Homo sapiens: one gene and its partners. The protein of the gene in region 5 purifies or fractionates together with the protein of the main gene of each other region. This does not show direct contact. Each region holds a gene or a part of one and is shown on either strand. Other genes may lie near its edges.

Evidence for each region.
Region 1: the proteins of COQ7 (region 5) and BOLA3 purify together in Homo sapiens (affinity purification with mass spectrometry; one large-scale study listed by BioGRID and IntAct). This does not show direct contact.
Region 2: the proteins of COQ7 (region 5) and ECH1 purify together in Homo sapiens (affinity purification with mass spectrometry; one large-scale study listed by BioGRID and IntAct). This does not show direct contact.
Region 3: the proteins of COQ7 (region 5) and PITRM1 purify together in Homo sapiens (affinity purification with mass spectrometry, with the first as the bait; one large-scale study listed by BioGRID). This does not show direct contact.
Region 4: the proteins of COQ7 (region 5) and AARS2 purify together in Homo sapiens (affinity purification with mass spectrometry; one large-scale study listed by BioGRID and IntAct). This does not show direct contact.
Region 6: the proteins of COQ7 (region 5) and ALDH1L1 purify together in Homo sapiens (co-immunoprecipitation; one large-scale study listed by IntAct). This does not show direct contact.
Region 7: the proteins of COQ7 (region 5) and GLUD1 purify together in Homo sapiens (co-immunoprecipitation; one large-scale study listed by IntAct). This does not show direct contact.

Annotation. Positions count from the first base shown.
Region 1 is NC_000002.12:74,141,256-74,145,049, forward strand, and holds part of BOLA3 (bolA-like protein 3), read right to left. Parts: intron 1,106-3,794; coding exon 1,017-1,105; intron 1-1,016. UniProt on the Homo sapiens protein: Acts as a mitochondrial iron-sulfur (Fe-S) cluster assembly factor that facilitates (Fe-S) cluster insertion into a subset of mitochondrial proteins. Probably acts together with NFU1.
Region 2 is NC_000019.10:38,818,196-38,821,925, forward strand, and holds part of ECH1 (delta(3,5)-Delta(2,4)-dienoyl-CoA isomerase, mitochondrial precursor), read right to left. Parts: intron 1-3,730. UniProt on the Homo sapiens protein: Isomerization of 3-trans,5-cis-dienoyl-CoA to 2-trans,4-trans-dienoyl-CoA.
Region 3 is NC_000010.11:3,141,538-3,145,331, reverse strand, and holds part of PITRM1 (presequence protease, mitochondrial isoform 2 precursor), read left to right. Parts: exon of another isoform or gene 1-361; intron 362-965; coding exon 966-1,040; intron 1,041-1,345; exon of another isoform or gene 1,346-1,476; intron 1,477-1,556; exon of another isoform or gene 1,557-1,830; coding exon 1,831-1,943; intron 1,944-2,243; exon of another isoform or gene 2,244-2,360; intron 2,361-3,562; exon of another isoform or gene 3,563-3,731; intron 3,732-3,794. UniProt on the Homo sapiens protein: Metalloendopeptidase of the mitochondrial matrix that functions in peptide cleavage and degradation rather than in protein processing. Has an ATP-independent activity. Specifically cleaves peptides in the range of 5 to 65 residues.
Region 4 is NC_000006.12:44,303,281-44,307,074, forward strand, and holds part of AARS2 (alanine--tRNA ligase, mitochondrial), read right to left. Parts: exon of another isoform or gene 3,752-3,794; coding exon 3,643-3,751; intron 3,253-3,642; coding exon 3,214-3,252; intron 3,112-3,213; coding exon 3,000-3,111; intron 2,507-2,999; coding exon 2,373-2,506; intron 1,919-2,372; coding exon 1,774-1,918; intron 1,538-1,773; coding exon 1,365-1,537; intron 1,254-1,364; coding exon 1,140-1,253; intron 1,042-1,139; coding exon 901-1,041; intron 144-900; coding exon 6-143; intron 1-5. UniProt on the Homo sapiens protein: Catalyzes the attachment of alanine to tRNA(Ala) in a two-step reaction: alanine is first activated by ATP to form Ala-AMP and then transferred to the acceptor end of tRNA(Ala). Also edits incorrectly charged tRNA(Ala) via its editing domain.
Region 5 is NC_000016.10:19,066,116-19,070,413, reverse strand, and holds the start of COQ7 (NADPH-dependent 3-demethoxyubiquinone 3-hydroxylase, mitochondrial), read right to left. Parts: upstream 2,801-4,298; 5' UTR 2,750-2,800; coding exon 2,677-2,749; exon of another isoform or gene 2,584-2,676; intron 2,508-2,583; exon of another isoform or gene 2,406-2,507; intron 2,398-2,405; exon of another isoform or gene 2,184-2,397; intron 1,768-2,183; exon of another isoform or gene 1,567-1,767; coding exon of another isoform or gene 1,536-1,566; intron 1-1,535. UniProt on the Homo sapiens protein: Catalyzes the hydroxylation of the 5-methoxy-2-methyl-3-(all-trans-polyprenyl)benzoquinone at the C6 position and participates in the biosynthesis of ubiquinone.
Region 6 is NC_000003.12:126,156,414-126,160,207, forward strand, and holds part of ALDH1L1 (cytosolic 10-formyltetrahydrofolate dehydrogenase), read right to left. Parts: intron 3,763-3,794; exon of another isoform or gene 3,670-3,762; intron 2,227-3,669; coding exon 1,992-2,226; intron 1,096-1,991; coding exon 930-1,095; intron 1-929. UniProt on the Homo sapiens protein: Cytosolic 10-formyltetrahydrofolate dehydrogenase that catalyzes the NADP(+)-dependent conversion of 10-formyltetrahydrofolate to tetrahydrofolate and carbon dioxide.
Region 7 is NC_000010.11:87,074,253-87,078,046, reverse strand, and holds part of GLUD1 (glutamate dehydrogenase 1, mitochondrial isoform a precursor), read left to right. Parts: intron 1-1,390; coding exon 1,391-1,471; intron 1,472-2,023; coding exon 2,024-2,079; intron 2,080-3,432; coding exon 3,433-3,496; intron 3,497-3,794. UniProt on the Homo sapiens protein: Mitochondrial glutamate dehydrogenase that catalyzes the conversion of L-glutamate into alpha-ketoglutarate. Plays a key role in glutamine anaplerosis by producing alpha-ketoglutarate, an important intermediate in the tricarboxylic acid cycle.

The DNA of each region.
Region 1 (3,794 bases), on a different chromosome or scaffold from region 5:
CACAAAGATGGATCCCAAAGGGCACTGGTCCACAAAGGGCTGACAGGTTGCAGGGTCAGACAGCAGAGATGTCCGTTTTCAGGACACAAGACGGAAAACACCGACAGCCAAAAAAGGGGGCCGGGGAGGGTGGGGGAACGGCATTCATTCCCTGCTGGGGAGGGAGGGGAGGCAGCATTTGAGCTGAGTGGAGGACGGGAGGAAGGGCAACCCAGGCAGAAGGTCCAATCTGGGCAAAGGCCCAGATAGAGAAAGAGAGAGACCAGCGGGCAGAGGCCGGCTGGGAGGGTGCACGCAGAGAAGGGTGGGGGGAAATGCGTGAACAGCAGTCTAGGACACCTGAACTCAATGCATGAGAGGCCACCGAAGAGACGCTCATTACCAGTGCTGTGCTTTACAAAAATAACACTAGTTCACAATGGCAAGACCTTCCAGAACGATGCCAAACACACCCAGTGAGGGGGCAAATTCATAGGTACAGGTACAAGGGTCAAAGTTGGTATAAATTCCAAATTAAAATAAATATGGATAATATTTAAACTGAGCCTTAGGCTGGTTGAACGTGATGTTCCAGAACCCAAATGTTCTGTCATTGGGTCTGGGGCAGCTGCAGCCATTCTCACTCATGCCATGCATCAACTGACTCATCTGTAAAGCAGTCCCAAAGAGAGGCCAAAAAACCCCTCTTCAGATCTACAAAAACATGTATCTTTTAGCAGTGTCTGTGTTTAGATATACTCATCAATATGTGACAATAACAGTAAACATAGGTAGCATTATACGAGGACATACAAAATCACTATTGGGAGGCCTGTCTTCAATTTTGAATAAAATTCCTATTTGCCACAATGCAGATACTCCCAGATTCGATTTTTCTCAGGTCTTGAGTCCTGTTTCGTGATTGCAGTACTGCATTATTCTCTCCTGCAACTGACGGCAAAAACCACCATCCCTGCTTGGCAGGCCCCTTTGGAGGCTGAAGGCCAGTGGCAAGGGGCACTGTTGCCTCTACTGACCTGATTAACCATCTGGTGCTGCTGGACAGTTCTCTTCTCCTTAAATTCTTCTGATTCAATTTTAATTTCATACATCGCCCCACAACCTCCTAAAATAAACATGATTCAAAAGCATTTCAATTATTAAGTCATGGCAGCCATGGTCCCATATATCCTTGAAGTACTGTACAATCCAAAGGTCTGAATATTATCATTCAGCACAAAGGAAAGTTGCTAAGACCATTAGGAAAAGATCATGGCTTCCAATCTGACCACATGCTCCTCCTGACAGGCTGCCACAATCCAAAATGTGCTCTTCCTTTTGCGAGGCAGCTGCACCACCCAGGGTTACCACTTGTGGGCAGGAAAGATAAGGCACAAAGCATGGACAACCTAGGGAGTGTAGAGTGTTTCCTTTCACTAGGCCAATAAACGCCACGGAAGAGGATGAGAAGGACGGAATTTCAGCGTTCCAGCTTCCAAAGGACCAACAATCAGTGTTTTTGAAGTGCAAAAATACACTACAATTTGGTTTGAAAACTGTGTAATACTGTCCAAAGAAAGGAAAGAACCAGGGGAGCATGAGAGCCAGGGACACAGCAAACATGCTATGCATGGAGCTGCTCGGGGCTGTCTCTGGCACTGCTGGGTCCACAGCACAGCATCCAGGATTTCATCCTGGCTTTTGGGGGGAGAACTTTTTGGTGAAGCCCTCGAGGCAGAGCTTGGTGGGCCATCCACCCCCTGCCTGAGCTTTCCTCCACCTGGCTGGAGAGCTGGTGCTGATGACTGATGATAAACACACAGCTCTAGCATGAAATAACATGGGCAAGAATATGTCCCCTGCATGATTTACAGAGCCAGGCCATTGTGTGAGAGGTGCAACGTACTCAACAGGCTTTGCTCTGCTTCTTTTTTTTTTTGAGATGGAGTCTCGCTCTGTCGCCCAGGCTGGAGTGCAGTGGCACGATCTGGGCTCACTGCAAGCTCCGCCTCCCAGGTTCACACCATTCTCCTGCCTCAGCCTCCTGAGTAGCTGGGACTATAGGCACACACCATCATGCCCAGCTAATTTTTTTTTTGTATTTTTAGTAGAGACGGGGTTTCACCGTGTTAGCCAGGATGGTCTCGATCTCCTGACCTCGTGATCCACCCGCCTCGGCCTCCCAAAGTGCTGGGATTACAGGCGTGAGCCACCGCGCCTGGCCTGTTCTGTTTTTCTTATAATGTGCTCTAGGAGTCCAAGTTTTGGTTAAACCCAGGTTCTCAGCCTCAACTCCCCTTCTGCACTCTGTCCAGGACTGCGCAGAGCCACAGCTGAGTCAAGCTCTAACTCTGCCCTGGGCCTGGGGCAAGTTCAGGACCTGGTAACATCAAGGCCTCAGCATTGCCCCAAGACTCCTGCAGAGCCCTCACCTGATGTACCATTCCAGCAGATTTTTTTTTTCTTTTTGAGACAGAGTTTCGCTCTTGTCGCCCAGGCTGGAGTGCAGTGGTGCAATCTCAGCTCACTGCAACCTCTGCCTCCCAGGTTCAAGCGATTCTCCTGCCTCAGCCTCCTGAGTAGCTGGGATTACAGGTGCCTGCTACCATGCCTGGCTAATTTTTTTTTTTTTTTTGTATTTCTGGTTGAGATGGGGTTTCACCATGTTGGCCAGGCTGGTCTCGAACTCCTGACCTCAGGTGATCCACCTGCCTCAGCCTCCCAAAGTGCTGGGATTACAGACATGAGCCACCGCGCCTGGCCCCAGCAGATTTTTTTTTTTTTTTTTTGAGACACAGTCTCGCTCTGTCACCCAGGCTGGAGTGCAGTGGCATGATCTTGGCTCACTGCAGCCTCCGCCTCCCGGGTTCAAGCAAGTCTCCTGCCTCAGACTCTTGAGTAGCTGGGACTACAGGCGTGTGCCACCACGCCCAGTTAATTTTTGTATTTTTAGTAGAGACGGGGGGGTTTCACCATGTTGGCCAGGCTGGTCTTGAACTCCTGACCTCGTGATCCACCTGCCTCAGCCTCTCAAAGTGCTGGGATTACAGGCATGAGCCACTGCTCCAAAACCCCAGCAGATCTTTAGATTGATTTATTTCCTGTGGTTTCCAGAATAAAATCTACTTTCTAAACTTTCTCCTCAATCCTTGGAAATGTTATGTTCTCAGTAAAGTCAGTGAGCCCTCATGGCAATGCTGAGTGGCAAAGGCTGCCTCTGGGTATGGAGAGATTCAGACTGATGCCTATCCAGCGGCCCACGCCACGGGCCGTTCTGTGTGTACGTGTGTGTGTGTGTGTGGATAAAGGGCCTATCTTCCCCATCCTGTGGATGCAGAAGTTGCTTCTCCAGCCTGCTCCTAACACACTGCCAGCCTGAACTTCTAGGTGCCAGTGGCCACCTGAGAAGGACAGCGCTTGGCTGGGGCTGGTAACTGGGCTTAGGACAGAGTCTCCCCTGAGTCCCGGTTCTGGTTCCAGTTCCACTGTCTCTTCCCTATGAGGAGCTAGGCAATTCCTTTGGCCTCTCTGGGCTCATTTCCTCTTAGGGAAAGTAAAGCAGCTGAAGAAAATCTTTCTGGGGTCCACTCCAGCTCTGATATCCTAGGGTGTCAGAAGAATGGGGGAAAATTAGAGCAAAACCTATTCAAAGTCAAATGACAGACTGTGGACCTCAGCTCTAGGGTGACTGAGAGGGACCTTGTCTGAGCTGAGCCAGGCTGGCAACCTTGAGTCCTCCCAGCTGCGCCTTGTCCTCAGTTTCCCTCTGATATTTCTGAATCCTGACTGCCATCCCATGAGGTGGGGGCAGCCGA
Region 2 (3,730 bases), on a different chromosome or scaffold from region 5:
TCCAGAGGCCATGCTTTTCCCCAAGATGCCAGACAGCCTGGGACTCAAGGTCTGCAGCGTGAGCAATGCAGTCAATGGTGGTGATGTTTCCTGAGATGAGAAACATCTCACGATGCAGCAATTTCTGTGGCTCCAACTTCAAGATGATCCTGAATCTGACCTTTCCTGCATCAGTTGTTCTCCATGAGCCCACCCTGCTCTCCCTGTTTCCACCTGTGTCCCCAGTCTATTCCCTACAGGCAGCCAGGGGAAGCCAGTGGACACCTTCTTGGGTCAGATCCTCTTTTTTTTTATTTTATTTTTTTTATTTCAGACAGAGTCTCGCTCTTGTCGCCCAGGCTGGAGTGCAGTGGCAGGATCTCGGCTCAATGCAACCTCCGCCTCCCGGTTCAAGTGATTCTCCTACCTCAGCCTCCCAAGTAGCTGGGATTACAGGCGCCCACCACCATGCCCGGCTAATTTTTGTATTTTTAGTAGAGACGGGGTTTTGCCATGTTGGCCAGGCTAGTCTCAAACTCCTGACCTTGTGATCCACCCACCTCGGCCTCCCAAAGTGCTGGGATTACAGGCGTGAGCCACCGTGCCCGGCCCAGACCCTCTTTTTCCCACCTGTGGCTCTTAGAACAAAATGGAACGTCCTTGTCATGACTACCCTGCATGAACACTGTTCCCAACCTGTTACTTTGGGCACACTGGCCTCCAACTCTGTGTGTGTGTGTGTGTGTGTGTGTGTGTGTGCACTGTTCCCAACCTGTTACTTTGGGCACACTGGTCTCCAACTCTGTGTGTGTGTGTGTGTGTGTGTGTGTGTGTGCGGGCACGTGCATTTGAGCCCAGGAGTTGGAGGCTGCGGTCAGCTATGATCGCACCACTGCACTCCAGCCTGGGCGACAGAGCAAGACCCTGGCTCAAAAATAAAAAATAAAAAGAAAAGAAAATGGCAGGACAGAGAGGTGAAAAGACAAGTGGAAATAGGATCCAGATCACTGCCTGAGGGCTGTGCAGTGGTACAGAATCTTCTCATTGAGAAGGTGACCTTGAGTAAAGACCCAGAGGAGAGGGAGGGAGCCAAGGACCTTTGGGCTGACAACCATCCCTCCCTCTTCAACAGCCACAGACTGACTCCTTCACTTCCTTCAGCTATAGCTCAAAGGTCACCTCCTAGAGAGGCCCTCCCTGGCCAACCTGGCTCAACGATGGCCCCATCCCCCGCATCCTGACCCCGCCTTACCTCCGGGCTGCACAGCTGCTATCCTATAATTAGGTCCTTATCTGCTTGAGGGTCTGACTCCCTTTCTAGAATGTGAGCTCTGAGAACACAGGAGTTTTTGTCTTTCTGTCCACTGCTGCATCCCCTGGGCCTAGCACAGGGCCTGGCGCACACGAGCTGCTCAATAAATGATCAATACAGACAACAGTCCCTGTCCTCATGGGGAGGCAAACAAATGAATAAAAAAGTATATTTTGGGGCTGGGCGTAGTGGCTCACACCTGCAATCCCAGCACTTTGGAAGGCAGAGGCAGGAGGATGGCTTGAGGCTAAGATTTTGAGAACAGCCTGGGCAACATTGCAAGACCTCTTCTCTACAAACAATGAAAAAATTAGCTGCACATGAGGCTGGGCATGGTCACCTGTAATCCCAGCACTTTCGGAGGCTGAGGTGGGCGGATCGTTTGAGCCCAGGAGTTGCAGGCTGCGGTCAGCTATGATCGCGCCACTGCACTCCAGCCTGGGCGACAGAGCAAGACCCTGGCTCAAAAATAAAAAATAAAAAGAAAAGAAAATGGCAGGACAGAGAGGTGAAAAGACAAGTGGAAATAGGATCCAGATCACAGCCTGAGGCCAAAGTCCCCCTTACTTTTTTTTTTTTTTTTTTTTTTTTTGAGATGTAGTCTCACTCTATCGCCCAGGCTGGCGTGTAGTGGCGCGATCTCGGCTCACTGCAAGCTCCGCCTCCTGGGTTCACGCCATTCTCCTGCCTCAGCCTCCCTAGTAGCTGGGACTACAGGCGCCTGCCACCATGCCCGGCTAATTTTTTACATTTTTAGTAGAGACGGGGTTTCACTGTGTTAGCCAGGATAGTCTCCATTTCCTGACCTCGTGATCCGCCTGCCTCAGCCTCCCAAAGTGCTGGGATTACAGGTGTGAGCCACGGCGCCCGGCAATCCCCCTTACTTTTAACCAGCATGCCAGCTACTCAGATGACAGACATTTAGCAGCTAAGAGCAAGGACTCTATAGCCAGGCAGCATGAGTTCCAAAATCCCAGCTCTGCCACTTACAAGCTGTGATTATTGGGTAAGTTTCTTGCTCTCTGGATCTGTTTCACCTTTAAATGGGGCTTATAGCAGAACCTGTCTTGTGGACTGTGATTAGAATTAATATGTTTAACGTGCTTAGAAAGGGGCGTCACACACCATGAGTGCTACATAATTGTGGCCACCTTTTTCTTTCTCTAATTAGTAGTTCTACTCTATCACTGGGTCACTGCATGACCTGCCGTTTCTTCCTTCTGGCCTTCGGGGTCTTGCTGCTGAAAATAAGATAAGACGGCCACATTCAGCTGGGAGCTGAAAGATGAAGGACCTGGGCCCGGCACAGCCACAAAAAAGCCCCATTTTTCTGTTCTCAGACATGATCTCTATGAGAGCAAGGGGTCAGGAATCGGGGCTGCTTCCCGTTTCCACATCTGCAGCACCCAGGAGGGGGCTCTGGCACTGGACTGTGTCACTGAATGTTTGTCAAATGAATGAACAAATGAACAAGAGGAGGAACAGAGGGAGATGCAGAAAGAAAGCAGGAGGCTGGGTGCGGTGGCTCATGCCTGTGATCCCAGCACTTTGGGAGGCTGAGGCAGGAGGATCGCTTTAGATCAGGGGTTCGAGACCAGCCTGGGCAACATAGCAAGCCCTGCCTCTACAAAAAGTGAAAAAACTTGCTGTGCATGGTGGTGCACACCTGTGGTCCCAGCTACTTGAGGGGCTGAAGTGGGAGGATGAGGGGAGGTGGTAGGGGCTGAGGTGGGAGGGGTTGAGCTCAGGAGGTGGAGGCTGCAGTGAGCTGAGATTGCTCCACTGCATTCCAGCCTGGGTGACAGAGGGAGACCCTGTCTCAAAAATGAAAGAAAGAGAGAGAGAAGGAAGTGAGAGGTGACAGCATGCTGGCAGCCCTTGCTCGCTGGCCTCAGAGCCCACTCTGGCCATGCTTGAGGAGCCCTTCAGCCTGCTGCTGCACTATGGGAGCCCCTCTCTGGGCTGGCCAAGATCGGAGCCGGCTCCCTCTGCTTGCAGGGAGGTGTGGAGGGAGAGGCGCGGGCGGGAACCCAGGCTGCACGCAGTGCTCTCCGGCCAGCGCAAGTTCCGGGTGGGTGTGAGCTCGGCGACCCCGCACTCGGAGTGGTGGGCCGGCGCCACCTGCCCTGAGCAGTGAGGGGCTTAGCACCTGGGCCAGCAGCTGCGGAGGGTACACCGGGTCCCCCAGCAGTGCCGGCCCGCTGGTGCTGCACTCGAATACTTGCCGGGCCTCAGCTGCCTCCCTGTGGGGCAGGGCTTGGGACCTGCAGCCTGCCATGCCCGAGCCTCCCCCCGCCGCCGTGGGCTCCTGCACAGCCCGAGCCTCCCCGAGGAGCGCCACCCCCTGCTCGGCGGCGCCTGGTCCCATCAACTGCCCAAGGGCTGAGGAGTGCTCCGCCTGCGGCCCTGGTGCAGGATCCACTGGGTGAAGCCAGCTGA
Region 3 (3,794 bases), on a different chromosome or scaffold from region 5:
AGACTTTGGCTGGAATACGCTGGCAGAGGAATGGCCCAAACCGTAGCCTGAAGGCTGTTCACTGCTGTTTCTTTGACTCATGAATCCATGGATTTGACATGGAACAGTGATGTCGGTGATAACTAACTTAGTAAATTTGATTAACTTAGAGAGTTGTAGTCTAGTTCATGGATGTCAGTAGAGAAGCCGTGCTGCTCCGTGGAGGAGGTTGACGCTCATGTCTTCTCCGTTGGTGTCTGCGTATCCCTGGTTCAATTCTGGATGTGGTCTCTCTGTTGGCCCCTGGGAGTGGAGCCTTTGGGAGGTGGCCTCCTGCTGCTCCAGGCCCCTCTGCCTGCAACCCTTTCACCTTAAATGTCCTCTTGATTTGACAGATTAATGACAAGAAAGTGCAGAAAGAAAGGTTAAAATATTTTCTTTGTACCATATAACAAGGCTACCTTTTCCTTGACTGTCTGAAAATTTATTTTAATATTTTCTTAATTTCTTTTACTCACTTTATTTCTTTTTTTAGTTTTTGTTATTTTGAGACAGGGTCTGTCTCTGGCACTCGGGCTGGAGTGCAGTGGTGCCATTACAACTAGCTGTAGCCGTGACCTCCTGGGCTCAAGTGATCCTCCAATCTCAGCCTCCCAAGTAGCTGGGGCTACAGGTGTGCACCACCATGCCCAGCTAATTTTTAAAAATTTTTTGTTGAGATGGGAGCTCACTACATTGCCCAGGCTGGTCTCAGACTCCTGGACCCAAGCAATCCTCCCACCTCAGCCTCCAAAGTGCTGGCATTATAGGCATGAGCCACTCTGCCCAGCCTATTTTTATTTTTTTTAAGCGTTTATTATTTAAAACACTTACACCTGCCCTAACACTTGTTATTAGCTGTGTGAATTTTATAAACTCTGTTACTTCTTATATATTTCAAGTGAGTTCTGGATTTTTCTCTTTTCTCTTGGAAACTTGATTTTCAGAAACCTGTGCCCAGCAGCTCTGGTGGAGATGCCCACGTTCCCCATGGCTCCCAGGTCATTAGGAAGCTGGTCATGGTAAGAACCACAGCCCATCCGGGTTGCCAGCGGGTGGGTGCTTCCCTGCATGGCTGTGTCTGCCACTGATGTTCGAATGTTCCTCCGTCCGCCTGTCTGTGGGGCTGGCGTGTCCCTAGAGTTGCGAGTTCAGTGCATCCTTTGTCACTGCCACCCTGAGCCTTTTCTCTCTCAGACAGTACTGAGTGAAGGCCCTGGTGGGGGTGTGTCCTCCTGTGCCGAGGAGGGCCCTGGTATGGGGTGCGTCTTCCCTGTGCCCAGGAAGAGGGCTACTGCTCTGGGTGGTCTCCTCCCGGGCAACTCACCCTTCTTTGAACGTAGCTCCCGAGCTGAGTCGATGCCAGTGGAGCGGTCTGACAGATCCTTTCCGCGACTCAGCCTGGTGCTGATGCTGTTTGGTTTGGTTCCTTGTGGAGTAGAGTGATTTAACACATTCCTATGATATAATATGATATGAAATATAAATATGTAACTGTGATATAAACGGCGTAGAATGAAATGTTTTTAATTGAACAGTATACGTTAAGGCATCACGTCAAGATTGGAGGACTTCATGTCAGTTTTACAGTGAGAAATTGTGTGGAGTGACGGAACTGCAGTGCCTTGCTCTCGCGCCCCAGCACCTGGCTGCAGAGTGTCACGGAGATGGGACCCCTGAGATGGCTCCAGTCCCAGTGCCGTGGGCAGTGCGTGGGAGCACAGCCGCCTCTGACCCCTGAGTGGGTCCAGTCCCAGTGCCGTGGGCGGTGCATGGCAGCACAGCCGCCTCTGACCATACCGTGTCCCTCAGGAACCCACCTTCAAGCCCTGGCAGATGAAGACTCACTTCCTGATGCCCTTCCCGGTGAATTACGTGGGTGAATGCATCCGAACTGTCCCCTACACGGACCCAGATCATGCCAGGTAGGAGGGTGTAGGTCGGGACCTCTCAGGCCTGAGCCTTACGGAAGAGCTTGTCAAGGCTGTTCGAGTTCACAGGGCGTGTTTTAGCACAGGAAAAGTCTGTGCTGACTCTGAGTGTTGGACCTGGGGCTGTGTGAGTCTACGAGTGCTCCTCTTTAACCAGCAGTCTTTGTGAACAGAGACCCAGTTTTAGAGCCAGTCATTTTTGTAAACAATTTCTATTATTGAGGAGTCCTATGAACAATACAGATACCTATGACCTTAAACACAGACTGCTTTCAACATGCCCCATGTACTCACCTCATCTCTAGGTAAAAATCGAATGAATTTAGGCTGAGATTTCTGATAAACATGGTAGGTTAAGCCTTCATGAGGACAGATGCGTGAATGACAGCAAAGGCAGATCAAGACACGAAGCTACAAGGGAAAGAGTGGGAGGTGACCCGGAGAGCCATGGGGGCTGCAGGAGAACCTCGTGAGCCAGACTCTGGGTGGGTGGGGGGTGCCTGACCTGGGGCCACAGAGGGACAGGGCAGTGGGGAGAAACCAGGTGGTCCTGCAGAGCCCTGCAGATGGCAGGGCTGGAGGCCGCCTCACAGTCCCTCTAAGGAGTTTGTCTCCCCTGTCTCCCCACCAAGTCAGAAGCTCAGGGAAGGAGGCCCTGGGTTGAGCAGCCGAAGCCACAGCCAAGAGTCAGGGTCAGGCCTGTTCCCAAAGTGGCGTGGGGCGAGGGAGTTTGCAGCCTACAGACTGGCCCTCCAGCCCCTTCTTCCGAACTCTGGCTGCCCCTTGGCTGTGTTCATCCCATCTGGGGAAACTGGCCAGACCAGGACAGACTCACAGACGTGCACCTTTGGGGACCCGTCAGTTGGGTGTGTATGACACAGATATGTGCAAACATGTTATATCCCGGAAATTCACTTCCTGTGTCCTTGTCCCAGGCAGCTACCCCCATGAGGGACTAAACCAAGGAGTGAGCCTGGTAGAGAGGGGGAAGGCAGGCTTAGGCCTGGGCAGCCTGTCCTGATTGGAGAAGGAGCCGGGCCTCCGAGGTGCACGTGTGTCACAGAGGGTCACAGATGGGGAGGTGTGTAGGAGGCAGGCGGGAAGAAACGTGGGGCTGCAGTGGGGGCCCAGAAAGAGCTGGCTGTAGAAGTATGTGGTCAGCTGTTTTGTTCATTTATTTCCATATTTGTAGAAGATGAACAGATCTGTCTGCTATGCCGGCAGAAGAGTGGTGTCTGTTTCCACTATCCAACAGGAAAATGTAGACAGAAAACACTAAAAATGTGGAGGTTCCCCCTGGGCAGTGGGATTCCAGATCTTTTTTTCCTTGTGTTTTGTATTTTATAATCTTTCAAAAGTGAGCATGTTTTTAATATACAAGTAATAGAAATTTCTCAGGAAGGATAATGTGTGGACGGATGGAACGCCATCCCTGCCGGTGCTGGTGGAGACTCCGTCCCCCAGGGTCTGACTCCAGCCTCGCTAGTCCCGGCTGACGGCGCCCCAGCCACCCGAGTGGCGCTGGGTTTCTCCTGGAGGACCCACACGAGATGGTCGTGACTTCTCCCACCACAGCCCCTGGGAACACGCCCACTCCTTCCTTGATTTCCCACCTGGCCTATTTGACTCCCTTCATCCACTTTAGGAAAAGGCCTGTCTGTGGAAGCGGCGACCTGGGGCTGATCTCACCACGGGCGTCTTCAAGGAGCCTGTGTCTGTGCTGCAGACCCTCCCATCATTGTCTGCCCCGCCTTCTGTCGGAGGTGGATGTGTTCTAGAATCAGCTTGAATGTGATGTTACCGTTCACAGTGGAAGGCAGAGGAAATTGGCCCTGTTCCTAGAAA
Region 4 (3,794 bases), on a different chromosome or scaffold from region 5:
CTCACCTCATCCAGAGAGCGCAGGCCAGGGACCTGGGCAGTGAGCGCCAGGGGCACCTCCTCCATGTACACAGCCTCATCCTGCCCCACGGCCTCCTGCACAGTGTTCTCCACTGCCCGGAGCTGCTCTGGGGTCAATGGGGTCTGGAGGGGTGGGGAGGAAATGGAAAGACCAACATGCAGTCAGCCCCACACCTCTAACTGATGCATTGAAACACGGTCAATGTTCACTGAGCTATCCCCAGGTTCTAGAATAGTGGCTAGCACATAATAGGTGCTCAATAAACACTACCTGAGCAGACAATTATTTTCCTTAGAAAGCTATCTGGGAGTTGGGCCTATTGGAAGCTCCAGGCCTTTCACCAGGCACCAAAAGTTAAAGAAACAGAAAAAGGAGGCTGTATCCACATGGAGCTTACAAGGGGTAGCCCAATGGAAGAGAGAACTACAGGATGGGGGGATGCAGGGGCAGGGAATAAGCAGGTGGGATGGGGATTAGCCAGCAAGTACTTCCTGGAGAAAGGATTTAAGCCAGATGTGTAAGAAGCGCAGGGAGACAGGGTGGCAGCAGAGGGAGAGGGCAGCCCAGTTTAGGCAAGAATGGCTTGGATGACAGTAGAAACAAGGAAGGGGAGCGGCTGGAGGTGAAGGGAAGGCCCCTGCTGGAGGGCCTTCAGGATCCCACATCAGAGCTGGGCGAGGCCCCAGACACTCTGTAGCCTGACTCCTCACTGCTGCACAAGGAGCCCAAGGGGAAAGGACTTGCCCAGGGTCCCATAGTGATTGGGTGGCCGTGCTGGGCCTAGAGCCCAGGACTCTAAGGGCAACCCGCTCACAGCAGGCTGTCTCTCTTTTATGCCTGTCACCTCACATGAAGCCTGTCTTTCTATGCCGGGCTCACCTGGGTGGTCACATCCAAGCGCAGCTGCTCAGGATTGAGATGGGAGCCCTGCTGCTCTGTGCCAGGGCCCAGGGTCTGCCTCAGTGCCCAGTTCAGCAGGTGGGTGGCCGTATGCTTCGCCATGCAGCCTAGACGCCAGGCCTGAAATACTTTTGTCACCCAGCGTCCTGGGTGAGGGCAGGGGGTTGGGAGAGTGAAGGGGCTGCAGGGTATTGGGAACAGTTAGGGAGGATCCTTACCTCATCCACATGCAGCTGCACCTGGTCCCCTAACCGCAGGCACTCAGGGGCTACTGCCTCATGCAGGATGAAACCTCCACAGACCTGGGCCCGGGCTACTGGGAACAGCACGTCCTGAGGGAGGGTAGTGGTCAAGGTGCCTGTAGCCTTTCCCTCCCCTTGGCTCCCACTCAGGCTTGGGTCTGCCGCCCACAGAAATCAGCCTGGGTTGTGATGGAGACTCACCTCTTGCCCTGCCCGCACCAGGTAGCCACGGTCTGAAGCCTGGCCCCCCTGTTCTGCGTAGAAGTTGGTCCTGTCCAAGAGGAGGCCACAGCGCTGGCCTTTCCCCACGGAGGCCACTGCTGTCCCGTCCTCTGTATACAGTTGCAACACCTGGGCCTCACAGGTGCCGAACTCTGCCAGGGCACAGAATGGTTATTAGTGGTGGGCAGGGGCTGGGGACGTGAAGGTGGGTCTGTGCCTGGAGGCCAACAAGCACCCCCGCTGGCAGGGGCACTTCCAGCTGGGGGCCACAGAGACCCCTGGTGGCCATCCTGGGGAATACATAGGGGCTAGCAGCAACCATCTTGGACATTCTTCTTAGTCATGGTCAGGCAAGCTTGTGGCGGCAGGCCTTGGTCCAGGCTCTCACCATAACTTCCGCTGGGTCGCAGGGAGTAGTTGTACTTGGGGCTGTCGTCAGTTGGGGGCACTCCTTGGCGCTGCAGCTCCCCAAGCGCATGGACATCAAGCCACAATCCCTGCTTCTGAACTGGCTCAGCCTGCCGTGCCCGGTGCTGCAGGGTGGGCATGGGCATGGAAGAAGTGCATGGAGAATGAAAGAATGAAAGTGGGACTTCAGCCTCGCAGGGCCCTGTCCCTGCCACACAGCTGTGGACTCTGCAGCCCTTCTGGAATAAGAACTCAGGGCTTGGCTGGCTGCTAGAGCCCCTGAGCTGGTTGAACCATCCATCATGTCGGCTCCTCGGGATTAGGCCTTCCTGCCCACTGCTGCCCCTGGAGGGCCCCTCTCCAGGAAGCTGTGCTGGCTTCTGCTCCTGTGTTTAGCCCATTGGCTAGTTTTGCTTTCTACTGGTTGTGGCCTGAGGTTTTAGAAACCTCCCAGGTGAGGGGACAGATCCTATCTCAGCCTCTTGATTCCTCTCAATATTCACAGCTCCTCCCCCAGGAGCTCAGGGCTGGGGAAGAGGTGTCCTAACAGAACCCAGCATGGGGTGCCACAGCTTGTACCTGGGCCTCCTCTTGGGCCAACCGCTCCAGTCCAGCGGAGTCTAGCTGGACCCCTTTCTCCTCCAGCATCAGCTCTACCATGTCCAAGGGGAGTCCCAGGTCTCCACACAGTGACAAGGACCAGGCCACTTCAGCTTTGAGAAAGAAAGACAAAGAATGTTGAGGAGGGGAGGGATTAGACAAAGAAGGGGAGAAAAATAAGGTCCAGGGCCCTTCTAACCACGCAGAAGCCACCAGATGCCAAACACAAATACCCGCTCCATACTGGGTAGCCTCAGGAGAGGGGTCACATTCAGGCTTCATGCCTCAAGGCCAGAGCTGGGGGTAGTCCAGGGTACTCCCTGGGCACACATCATTTCAAGGGAGGAGGGAAGCTCAGTCTATGCACGAAGCCAACCTAGGAAAGCAGGAGGCAGGGCTAGCTGGGCACTGTGGACATGGGGAGAGGCAGGGTGGTATTCCTGCTGCAGAGGGGTCTGGGTATGGAAGGAGAGTCCAGGGAGAAAGGAACATTGGGAAGAGGTCAGGGGTGGATATGAGGCATGGGGCTGGCCCAGAGCTCCCTCCTCTGCCCACCTTGGTGAGTCTCAGCGAGCCCCTTGTGCATGGGCTAGGTATCCTGCTTACCAGGGAACATATCTGAAGGCCCCAGGGTCCTCAGAGTCCGATCAATGATCCGCCTACCCCGCTCCAGGGAGGCCAGGAAGGCTGCCTCGTCCTCTGACACCAGGTTGGCGATCTGAACCAGGCAGAGAAGAAGTGGAGCTGGGTCTCCTTGGAAGGAGGGTCTCTCTCCACAACTCTCCCATCAACCCCTTTCTCTCCCACTGGAATCCAGTACCTGGGCTGAGTTCCTTTGCAGTTCTGGATAAGCATCTCCCTGGGGGAGGTGGAGAGGGCTGAGGAGGTGTGAAAGGCAACCAACCCACCCCCACCTCCCCACCCTGGGCCTCCCTGAGGACACCTGCCCTGGAGGCTCAGACACATTGAGGGGCTGGGAGAGGGACTCAAATGGGGAACTGGTTTCCCTGTAGGGTGGCAGAAGGGGGTCCTGAGGTCAAGGGCTGAGCAGTTTGGAAAAGGAGCCTCCTCAAGTTCTCCTGCTTCTTGTAAGCAAGGACAGCTTTCTTAGCTTGCTGATAGGATGCTGGGCTCGATATTTAGGGTGGGGACCTCTGGGCACCCAGGCTGGGGGCACTGTCTAGGCTCAGTGGTAGGCTCCCCAAAGTGCCCAGGGAGGCCCAGAGTGAAAAAGAAGCTCTGTCCTTACCAGTGTCTCCACCACTACAGGTACCAGGCTGCCTAGGAAGCCAGGTGGTGCCTTTAAGATCTCCATGGAGAAACGCACAGCTCGACGCAGGATCCGACGAAGAACCAGCCTAAAGGGGTTCAGAGCCCAGACATGAATCCCCAGCGGCTCAT
Region 5 (4,298 bases):
GCCGTGACTACCATGTCTTTTATGCAAACTTCTTTTCACTTAGGCTAACTTCAACAGCCAGCGAATATGTGGAAAAAATTCATTTTAGATACATATGTGGTTCTTTCATGACAAAGGCTTGAGTGCTTTGGACACAAGGTAGTGAGGTGGGTTGGTGAAATTTGGGGTGGCTCTGAACTTGAAATCTTCTACCAGATGGGGTTGTAAATGTCACACTTTTAACAAAGAAGCGTGGACCTAAGTTCTGAAGCATAGTGACCCAGCTTTGGTCTACTCCTCGCCATGATCCTCTCCATCTCACTGAGCATATCTGACTAAAGAGACTGCATAGGCCGGGTGTGGTGGCTCATGCCTGTAATCCCAGCACTTTGGGAAGCTGAGGCAGGTGGACTGCTTGAGACCAGGAGTTCAAGACCAGCCTGGCCAAAATGGTGAAAACCCATCTCTACCAAAAATATAAAAATTAGCCAGGCATCGTGGCACGTGCCTGTAGTCCCAGCTACTCAGGAGGCTGAGGCAGAACAATCACTTGAACCCAGTAGGCAAAGGCTGCAGTGAGCTAAGATCATACCATTACACTCCAGCCTCGGTGACAGAGTGAGACTCTGTCTCAAAAAAAGAAAAAAAGAAGCATAAAACATGTGTCCCATCTCTAACACTAGCCTTGGGAAAATCAGGATCGACATTTCTTACATATAAAATTGGCTGGGTGCGGCGACTCACGCCTGTAATCCCAGCACTTTGGGAAGCCAAGGAGGGAGAATCACTTGAGGTCAGGAGTTCGAGACCAGCCTGGTCATCATGGCGAAACCCCGTCTCTACCAAAAATTCAAAAATTAGCCAGGCGTGGTGGTGCATGCATGCAGCCTCAGCTACTCGGGAGTCTGAGGCAGGAGAATCACTTGAACCCAGGAGGCGGAGGTTGCAGTGAGCTGAGATCGCGCCACTGCACTCCAGCCTGGGCGACAAAGCAAGACTCTGCCTCAAAAAAAAAAAAAAAAAAAGGCAATAATCAGGCTCTTTCCTTTTTAAGGGAAAACATACAATAATAAACTTTTCTTACTGAGTTATGAGGATAAAATAAGATATAAGAAGCAAAGTAACTTTATAAACAGAAATGAGTCTTATTCTGTTATGCTCACTGGCTGAACAGAGCAGCATTAAAATTCACATTCAACAACCCTCGGAGTTTTGCCTGCATTACCATATACTTTAAAGTAAAATTGAGGCTCGGTGCTAGCTCTCAAATGCATCACTTTATGTCCATATTTTCCCAAAGTGTGAAACATGCCAGTGTGGTACCTACAAAATATTAAGTGGCTTATGGATATGCAGCAAATAACCCCATGTAGTAAGGGGTACTCTTTCAAAATCTCTTGCAATCTCTTTCATTAAGGAAGATAACTCCATTTACAGCTGGTATAGCCTTAACACTTTCCCAACACTTGCTAATTTCCCCTTTGTAACAGAAAGACAGTATTTAATACAATTTCATAACTTTTTAATTTGTTTGTTTTTTTTTAATGATTACTCACCCATTTGTGGCAAGTGGCACTGGCTTCCCATTCACCATAAGGATTTTGTTTCAAGGAAATTAATTTAATTTTTAAATGGGACATAGCTATACAAAAAAACACATCTAGTAATCAAAAGTTCAAGCAGTACTGCCATTAGGCAAAAATCCCGAAAGTGGTACACGGTAATTTAACGTTGAGAAAACGACTTCATGAAATTTCTTTTTTTTTTTTTTTTTTGCGCGGGGGAGACAAAGTCTCGCTCTGACGCCCAGGTTGCAGTGCAGTGGTGCAATCTCGCCTCAAAGCAATCTCTGCCTCCCGGGTTCAAGCGATTCTCCTGTCTCAGCCTCCTGAGTAGCTGGGATTACAGGCACCTGCCATCACGCCTGGCAAATTTTTGTATTTTTAGTAGAGGCGGGGTTTCACCATGTTGGCCAGGCTGGTCTCAAACTCCTGACCTCAGGGGATCCTCCAGCCTCGGCCTCCCAAAGTGCTGAGATTATAGGCCGGAGCCACCGCGCCCGGGCTCATGACAATTTTCTAAGGCAGCACAGATGAAACAAGGAAAGCAGGAACCAGGGTCCAAAACCATGTCTCTCTACTCTAAATTCGATGCTCCTTCCACTACACTGATGGCTTTCACAGTTTACAGTGCATGCAAATCACCTAAAGGTCCTGTTCACAGATCACAGATACCGACCAAGTAGGTCGGGGTGGGGCCCGAGAATCTGTATTTCTAGCGAGCGCCCAGAAGTAGCGGAGGCTGCTGGTCGTCGGGCTACCCTTTGCCTGGCAAGGCCCTGGGCAAAGACTACAAAGAGAGAGACTCCCGGAGACGCTGAATTTTCAGTGTCGCCAACTGTCCTCGACTCGGAACGCTGGCCGCACCTGCCGTGACATCACTGCACAGGGGTGCAATTGCGTCACTCCCCAGGCGTCACTGCCGAAACAACCCCTGTCCTCCTGTCACTCTCGCCGCTAACTACAGACCCCGCCCCGCCCGCCAGCGCCCCGGAGGCCGAAGTCACGCAGTCGCGCTCCGTCGCAGGCCTGTGACGTTACGAACCTCTCCCCCGTGACCTCTTCGACCCAAACCTCAAGCGAAAATTCCCTAGCTCGCTAGACCGGCGCAGGACTGTGACTGCGCGCCTCCTTTTACCTGAGAGGGACCGCCGGGCCCCCGGGCGCAGCCGCCAAAGGCGGGGAGCCGCCGCCGCCCCGGCGCAACTCATTGCCGGAACTAAAAAAAGCAACCACTTCGTTGAACGGAACTGGCCAATAGTGCCCTTGGCTCGGACTGATGACGCACAGCAGACGTAAGGAAGGCTCAGCTCGCCCGCGCACCGGTGGGAACGCCCCCTAGCTCTGCGCTAGGGGTTAGATTGGTTAGATACGACAAATAAAAAGATTTTATTGGGTGGGGTCACTGTCAATCACTCGGAAGACCAAGGCCAAGGCGCCTTGGGTTGCCAGGGAGATGAAAATGCTAAATTGCTGTTTAGAAAGATCAGGACAAGGTTATGATTTCTCACCCAAGTTCCTGGGGAAAAGGATCATGAGGGAATTACTTATTAACAAGGCACGGTATTTCCTGCTTTACCTACGTGGAAGGAGATTTTTTTTTTTATTTGTATCCTACATCTACTTTAAAATAGTAAGCCTGGGCAACATAGCGAGACCCCGCCTCTACAAATAATTTTAAAAATTAGCCGGGTCTGGTGGAGCACACCTGTAGTCCCAGCTACTCGGGAGGCTGAGGTGGGGGGATAGCTTGAGCCCGGTAGCTCGAGGCTGCAGTCAGCCGTGATTCTGCCACTGCACTCTAGCCTGGGCCCTGTCTGAAAAATAAATAAATAAATAAAATTATATGTATATCTAAATTACATGCACCACATGGTTAATGGTGTTATATAGTGTTATCTCTATTGGTGGGCTGAAAGCCAACTTTAAACTTCTTCCCGGTCTTTTCTCTATTTTCAGAAACAGAGAACATGTTTTATCCTTGGTATCCACCTTAATGTACTGTGTGCATGTATGCATGTATATTTGTGCAAATTGGAATTTTTTGAGAAGGGAGGGGAAATTTAGCAACATACTTTAAAAAGATCATATAATACAGCAGTCTTACTTTTAGGAATCTACTCAACGAAATAATTTTTAAATGAGTAATGTACATGAGGGCAAAAATCAAAGATGCGTGTCTGCAAGGATATACAACGTTTAATATTGGCAACATCAGGGGGCTGGAACTGGGAGAAGGGAGCTTTCACTTTCTACTTTACACCCTTGGATTATTTATATACTTTATCCAAGTTTACCATAAAATATTTTAAGATGGAATACAATTGTAAAATTATTGAATTCAAGTTTTTAGTTTTTATATCACTCTAGTGTTCAAATTGACACACCAAAATAATTTAAAATTATGATGAACCCAAATACTACTTAGTGAGGATGTTGTAGCACTCTCATGTAAAACTACTGAGTGTCTGAATCTGGCGCTCAAAAGCCTTAAAATGTTCAAAACCTTTGCTGTAATACCACTTCTAGGTCTCTGTTTCCTTTTTGTTTTGTTTTTTGTTTTTGTTCTTTTTAAATGGAGTTTCACTCTGTCGCACAGGCTGGATTGCAGTGGGGAGACCTTGGCTCACTGGAACCTCTGCCTCCCGGGTTCAAGCGATTCTCCTGCCTCAGCCTCCCAAGTAGATGGGATTACAGGTACACACACCACCACGCCCAGCTGAGACTGGGTTTCGCTGTGTTGGCCAGGCTGGTCTCAAA
Region 6 (3,794 bases), on a different chromosome or scaffold from region 5:
AGCTGAGGAGGACGAGGGGACAGTGGACACTGCAGCTGCTCTTCCTGCTGCGCCCAAACAGCAAGGGCTCCCCAGGGCCTCCTTCCCTCCTGCTGCATGCCTGGACAGCACCTCTGCCTGTGGCCGTCCCTGCCAGCCTGTCCTCGGGCAGGGGCAAGCAGCCCTCACATATGATCCCCGGGCCCCTCCTGCAGCTGTGGGCTCCGGCCCATAGCCTGCCACCCTGCCTCTCAGCAGTACCAGCTGCCCAGGTGACTGAGCCGCCCTGCCGCTCAGGCCATGTGACCACAGGTCACGGCCTTCCCAGCAGGAAGCATGTGACGGAGACAGCCTATCAGAGCACTCCATCACCCCAGCTGGTGATTGGCTCATGAGGATCACATGACCCCCAAGCTGGCCAATCAGAATCTCCCCTGATTTGTGATTGATGAATTCTAGGAGAAAAAGTGTTTCTCTTTCCCTGGAATCAAGAATTAGAATCCTTGAGCTATAGTGGCTATCTTTCCTCTAATTCAGGGCAGCCAAACTGAGAATGAAACAAATCACACAGAGAAAAGGAGAATCAACGAGTGAAGGAGAGAGAAATAGAATCCTAACGATGTCATAATTGAAGCTCCTGGATTCAGCAGGGTGTGACCCAGTCCCTGCCTTTAGCCTTCCTTGTCTATTGAACGGGCCCCAAAATGTCCCCTTTTTGCCAAACGCTTTTTGAGCTGGGTTCTGTCCGTTGTGAGCAAGATTCCCTCCTAATACAATACACTGTTTGTCCTAATCCTGCCTCTGAAACCTTGAAGTGAGAGCTCCTCTCCCTCCAGAATCCTGAATTTGGGGAACAGATTCCTGGCCTCCAGGAGCGGTGGGCTGGGTCTAGGGAGGATGCTTGAGGGTGCGTCGGGGCGGGCAGGGCGCGGCCGGCTCCAGGTCCTCACCATCCCTTTGATGCCTTCAGGGAAGAGGAAGCGGTTGTACAGCGTGCTCACGGTGTCGTCCGGGAGCACCTCACACTCCTTCTGCAGCAGCAGGTCTCCGGTGTCCAGACCATCATCCGCCCAGAAGATGGAAAACCCCCCTTTCTTATCTCCGTGAATGAGGGTCCTAGGAAGCAGAAGAGTGAAACCTGGAGTCCACGATGAAGGGCCACGGAGGATGTCCTGGGTACAGGCCCGTGGACCTGCCACCCTCCAGGAGGCCCTCTCTTCCCAGGGGTAGGACTGACACCGGCTCCGGCGGGAAACGGAAGAAGGAAAACAGCATGTATTGATAACAACCATGGGCCAGGAATTGTGCTAAAAGCTCTATATGCCTTATGTAACTGAGTCCTCACAGCAGGGATAACAGGTATACTCGGTTTACAGATAGGGAAACTAAGGCCCAGAAAAGTGAAGCGACACCCACAAAGATCAGAGAGCCTGAATCTCAACAGACCAGTCCGACTACAAATCCACTCTCTTTTCTCAACTCAAATGTCTTCCCTCTTTGACCACCCATCTGCCTTGTCACCCCATTTGTTGTCTTGGGAATTCTGTCCCCTCAGAGTACCTTGTGGAGGCCATCCTTTGCTCCATCTTTATCTCTTTCTACGAAGTGTGCTGCCCAGAGCAGCGGCAGTGGAAGTTAGAGTAGGACCCCCAGCCCACCGCCTGGGGTGGCACCCTGGCCCCTGCGCCTCCTGGTGCCCTCTCTGTCCCTGCGCCTTCTGGTGCCCTCTCTGTCTCAGCTGGGGGATGGGAACACTGACAGTGCCAGCTTCTCCAATAACTGTGGGAATGCAGAGTGCTTAGCAACACCTGCTCCCAGTGCTCTAGAGCCTTCACTCATTGATAACGTTGCACAGCCTGTTCTGTGGCTGACATCTGGCAGCCACAGGACAGGCACCTGCACGATGCCCACTCTGCAGCCCTAGAAATGCTTTGGGCTAATGGAAAGTGACAAGTCAGGCTGATGGAGGGACATGTATGGGGATGGCCCCCTGTGTTTTTGCCCCATCTCACCAGTTGATGGCCGAGGCCCCTCGGTGCCTAGGGAGCAGTGACGGGTGATAGATGATGGAGCCATGCCGGGGGGCACTGATTATCTCCATGGGGATGAATTGGCTGCAGAAGGGCAGGACGTTGAGCTCGGCCCCCAAAGCCTGGTATTTTGCCACCACATCAGGCAAAGCCTGTCCTTTTGCACGCCACCGGGAGTACTTGAATACCGGCACTCCATCCTTCTCAGCTTCCAGACCTGTGGGACGGTGGATAAGAAACTGGCCCCTCTCCATAACCCACCCACACGCAGCCACCTCTGCCTTCCCAGCAGAGCAGCTCATAGGACTTCTCTCCATTCCTGCCCCCTCACCCACACCCCAGCCAGGCTCCACTGGGCAACACAGACGGATGCACCAGCCAAGCATGAGGCTCTGGGGACTGCCCTGCCTGCATCCTGACTTTTGCTGAACCCCAGGACCTCTGAGTGCCTCCCTCTTCCAGAACCCAGATGGCTGACCTCTGCCCTCATTCCTCTCCTGAGGCCTTGCCATCCCCGTCACTGAGTTACTGTCTTCCGGCCCCCTCTACTGCTCACTCTGTGATGGGGACTGCCCCCCTGCAGATGGCATTTCTGCTTTGTCAGCTGTTCCCTGATGGAGGAAGAAGGGGAAGAAGGGCAACAGGGCATCCCCACTCCTTTCTGTCCAGTGGGTTCCTGTCCTGTGAGCCTCCCCCAGCCCAGCTTCTTCATCCCAGTCACAGTCGTTCCTTCTCAGAGCAATGGCTAAATCAGTTTTTCCATCATCTGCAGAACTAGCCTCAATATGCACACATGCGTGCACACACACACACACACACACACACCCCAGAGGACCAGATACAGCCTGCAGGGCCCCTCCTCCTGCCCCGTCACCAGCACACCCTCCTCACAGGTCTGGATTACAGGCCCAAGCTCCCAAGTTTTTATAGTTAAAGCGTCCTCCTTTATCTTAGCCTTACAGTGGCAGCTGCTTCCTGCAGTCGCTGTCCCCAATAACTTTGGGCTCTCTGCCTTCCACTCTTCAATACCCAAGGAACACTTCTTTGTATTCAGTTCTCTGTTAGAGCCTCTGGTGTGATGTTTGGGCCCTGACTGGACTGGCTCTCCTCTCCGGTCTCCTCCTCTGTCACTCTGTCCTGGTGTCTGGTAGTTTTGAGAGAGGGTGGGATGTGATGTCAGCAGATTGGACTGCACTTGCAAAAGCTGTCCCACAGTGACCAATGAAATACTGCTTCAGGACATCTGAGATCAAGGCCAAGTAGGAGTCCCAGCCAGGCCTGGTCTGGGTCCAGGGTCAGCAGCTGGGGTCAGTGGTCACTTAGTGGCTGGGTGTAGGACCCAGGCTGTGGTGGGGTCAGGGTATGTCATGGGTCACTTGTGGTCAGGTCCAAGACTGAAGCCTGGCTGGCATTGGGTGTTGAGTGTTGGAGTTGATTCTAGGGCCAGGCTGCAGCTTCCCCACTGAGGGAGACTGGCTTTCCTTAACAAACTACACCTCTGTGCCTGGCCAGGCCTACAAGCCCCCTTTCCTAATCCTGGCCCTCTATCCTTAAGCCCTGCCCCACAGTCTGTCTCCATCAGGCCTGAGAAGGACCAGTCAGTGTTCCTAGAGGGTCTGTTCATCCAAGCTGAGGCCCCTGCATCCTGTCTGCTGAGGTTCCCAGCTCAAAGGCAGTGACCCAGACCCATGATTCTCAAAACGTGCTTTTCCTAGTACAAGAGATGCCAGTATCTCCCAGGAACTTGTCCCAGGTTAACAATTTCACCTAATTCTGACTTTTCCA
Region 7 (3,794 bases), on a different chromosome or scaffold from region 5:
GTTTTCAGAAACATGTAAGAAAGCTAGCTTTTAAAATTGACTAGGGAAGTTCTCTCAAACTGCCAGTCCATGAGATATTGTATATTTTCTATCTGAAAAACTTTTAATCTCAGAATTCTTTAAAAGAGCTCTCCCTGGGGCTCCCATTACTTACTTGTGACTCCCAGTGGAAATCGTACCCAGCCCCTCGAGAGGGGCTGAATCTGTTGGGAGTGGGAGGGTAGAAAAAATGCTGCAGCTTCTTGTGGGTATCCTTCACACACAAACACCCAGTGCCCCAAGCACTGTGCAGTCAAACATCAACCCCACTCAGACTTTCCTCCTTGGGATTGAGAAGCAATGGATTATAGAGAAAGAAAGGTGGATTAGCACTCCAAAACTTTGAAGAGTAATTGACCAAGACCCCCAAAGCCAAAGCTGTGGGCATCCCCACTTCCAGTATACCCTGTACCAACACGTAATGGCTACTAGATACAGGGGCACTAGTACCTACCTGTCTGCTTGGCTACCTGCCCTCTTTGCAGAAGTGGTGAAGGGAATCACTCAACCTCAGAAAGGGAAAATGGCTTTCTCATTTTCAGATTGAAAGAGGTTGGCAGTGGGTGAGGAGAATAACAGGTAAGGATCTCTTTTAATATACCCATTTGAAGCCAAAACCTCTGTTTAGACATACGGTATTTTGAACCTGGTGATTATTCATTGCCCATGTTTGTGAATTATCAGAAAGCAGAATTCTTGCCAGGCATAGTGGCTCATGCCTGTAATCCCAGCACTTTGGGAAGCCAAGGTGGGAGGATCACTTGAGCCCAGGAGTTTGAGACCAGCCTGAGCAACATGGTGAGATCCTGTCTCTACAAAAAATTCAAAAATTAGCTGGGCATGGTGGTGTGCACTTGTGGTCCCAGCTACTCAGGAGGCTGAGGTGGGAGGATTACCTGAGCCTAGGAGGTTGAGGCTACAGTAAGCCATGTCTGTGCCACTACACTCAGCCTGAGCAACAGAGCAAGACCCTGTTTCCCACCCCTACCCCCCCAAAAAAAAGCAACCTGAATTCTTGAACTCCCTGCAACCAGGTCACCCAAACCAAAGGTAAAAGGAACATAAAAAAGCCTTCTGGAAAGTGTACAGAAATTCATTGCAGGGTGATTTTTGTCTTGTGAAATCATAGTTACTGTTATTAGCAGGTTTTTTTAACGTTTTATATTCATTTTTCATGGTGTTCTGATGTACAAGCTGCTTCAAGTGTTTTTGGACATAGCTTGGATGTAAAATGTAAAAAGTGGATATTTTCAATTTGTAGCTTTCTTTTTTGAAGCTTACTTAAGTTTGTTCTAAATATAACCCCTTCTTTCTCACCCACCCCAACACATTTTTTTAAAAACACCACCAGGTATCCGTTACAGCACTGATGTGAGTGTAGATGAAGTAAAAGCTTTGGCTTCTCTGATGACATACAAGTGTGCAGTGGTTGGTAAGTGATCGCCTTTCTTGCTGCCTAATGAGAACTCTGGGGAAATATGTTTACACACATGTTACTGTTAAGATGCTGTAGAAATATACCTTATCAGAACTGATTTTTTTTCAAGTTGTAATCTTTAAGACCTGCATCATTTTTCAATTAGTCTAAATTAAGATATAGCCTTTTTTTTTTACATGGGGGATTTTTTAAAATAGGAGATAATTGGATTTTAAGTCTAGATCTTTGTTTTCAATTCCTCAACACATTCTGTAAATAAGACCAAATTATAGTAGAAGGAGAGTAAATAAGCTATTATCTTTTAGAAGTGGTAAAGAGCACTGATTAAATATATATTAGAACTTGGCTAGCCAATTTTATTGAACAATTTCTGTTCAACAAAATGTTGTTTAAAGTACAGTTTAGAAAATGATGGTAGGTTTATTTCTTGAATTTTCAGAAATTCAAGCTTAAAGCATCACGTTTCTCTAATATTGTGTGGTGCTTTCTGTCATTTTACTTTTTTAACATTTATATGGAATAGCAACCATCAGCCTTCTCTTTCAGATGTGCCGTTTGGGGGTGCTAAAGCTGGTGTTAAGATCAATCCCAAGAACTATACTGTAAGTATGAAAGTGATATTTGTTTTTTATTGTTGTTGTTGTTTTTGTTTTTCTGAGACAGAGTCTTCCTCTGTTGTTCAGGCCGGAGTACAATGGCGCAATCTTGGCTCACTGCAACCTCCGCCTCCCGGGTTCAAGCAGTTCTCCTTGATCCAGTAACTGGGATTACAGGTGCACGCCACCATGCCCGACTAATTTTTGTATTTTTAGTAGAGAGGGGATTTCACCATGTTGGCCAGGCTGTTCTTGAACTCCTGACCTCAGGTGATCCACCTGCCTTGGCCTCCCAGAGTGCTAGGATTGCAGGCATGAGCCACCGCACCCGGCCTCAAAGTGACATTTGTGCACACAGTGCATTTATGAAGGACTTGAAATTACTGGGCTTCTCTGTATCCCCCACTATCAGTGAGATCAGTAGTCCCCATTGCTTTTCAAATGGAATAGAAAAATGTAAAGAATTAACTCATAGCGTGTTTTGCCATATAAAGATCACCTACTTAATATCTATATCCTTTATCATTTTCTGTTTCATTTGGTTTTGTTTTTATGAGTCTTTTGTTTTACTTTTTTGCTTTTTGTTTTATTATTTTCTTACTTAGTTAAAACGTAATTAATATCTTCACTTATATACTTATACCCATATTTATATAATGTCTTCACTTAGACACTTATACCCATATTTAAGAAATACTGTGATCTGATTAGCCAGGCATAGTGGTGCACACCTGTAATCCCAGCTACTCGGGAGGCTCAGGCATGAGAATTGCTTGAACCCAGGAGGCAGAGGTTGGCTGAGATTTCACCACTGCATTCCAGCCTGGGTAACAGAGCAAGACTCTGTCTCAAAAAGAAAAAAGTATTACTGTGATCTGAAGTTTTTATGTCAGGATCTGATTCTAGTGACACATATCTTAACTAAGACTATAAAAACCTTACTTTTTATCCAGTCAGTTCCAAGTTAATTCAAACTGATTGTCACAATGCTTTACATAATACTAAATTATCTATATACAAACATAAATGCATGATTTTTATTCTCTTTAAAATTCACCATTTAAATGGAATATAATTATATTTAAATTAATCTTAATTAAGATTTAGTGTATTTTTCAGTGGGGAATTAATAGAATGGGAATTTGAGCCCTAGTTCTACTATCTTGTTTTTATAACCTACTTTTTTGATCCCTTATTTTGTCACCTTTAAAATGGCAATGCCTACTTTATGAGTTGTTCTAAGGATTACATGAGAAGACATATGAAAATGTACTATAAATAGAAAATAAGATGCTAGCTATAATCTCAAGCGATTTTTATATCAATTTTTTCTTTTGTTTTTGTTTTCTTATTTTACAGGATAATGAATTGGAAAAGATCACAAGGAGGTTCACCATGGAGCTAGCAAAAAAGGGCTTTATTGGTATGTGTAGCCACATAGTTTTTGGTATAAAGTGGGAACATCTAAAAATTTTTTTTTTTTTTTGAGACGGAGTCTCACTCTGTTGCCCAGACTAGAGTGCAGTGGTGCGATCTCGTCCGCCTCCTGGGTTCAAGCAATTCTCTTGTCTCAGCCTCCCAAGTAGCTGAGATTACAGGCATGTGCCACCACACCCAGCTGATTTTTGTATTTTTACTGGAGATGGGGCTTTGCCATGTTGGTCAGGCTGGGCTTGAACTCCTGACATCAGGTGATCCACCCATCTCGGACTCCCAAACTG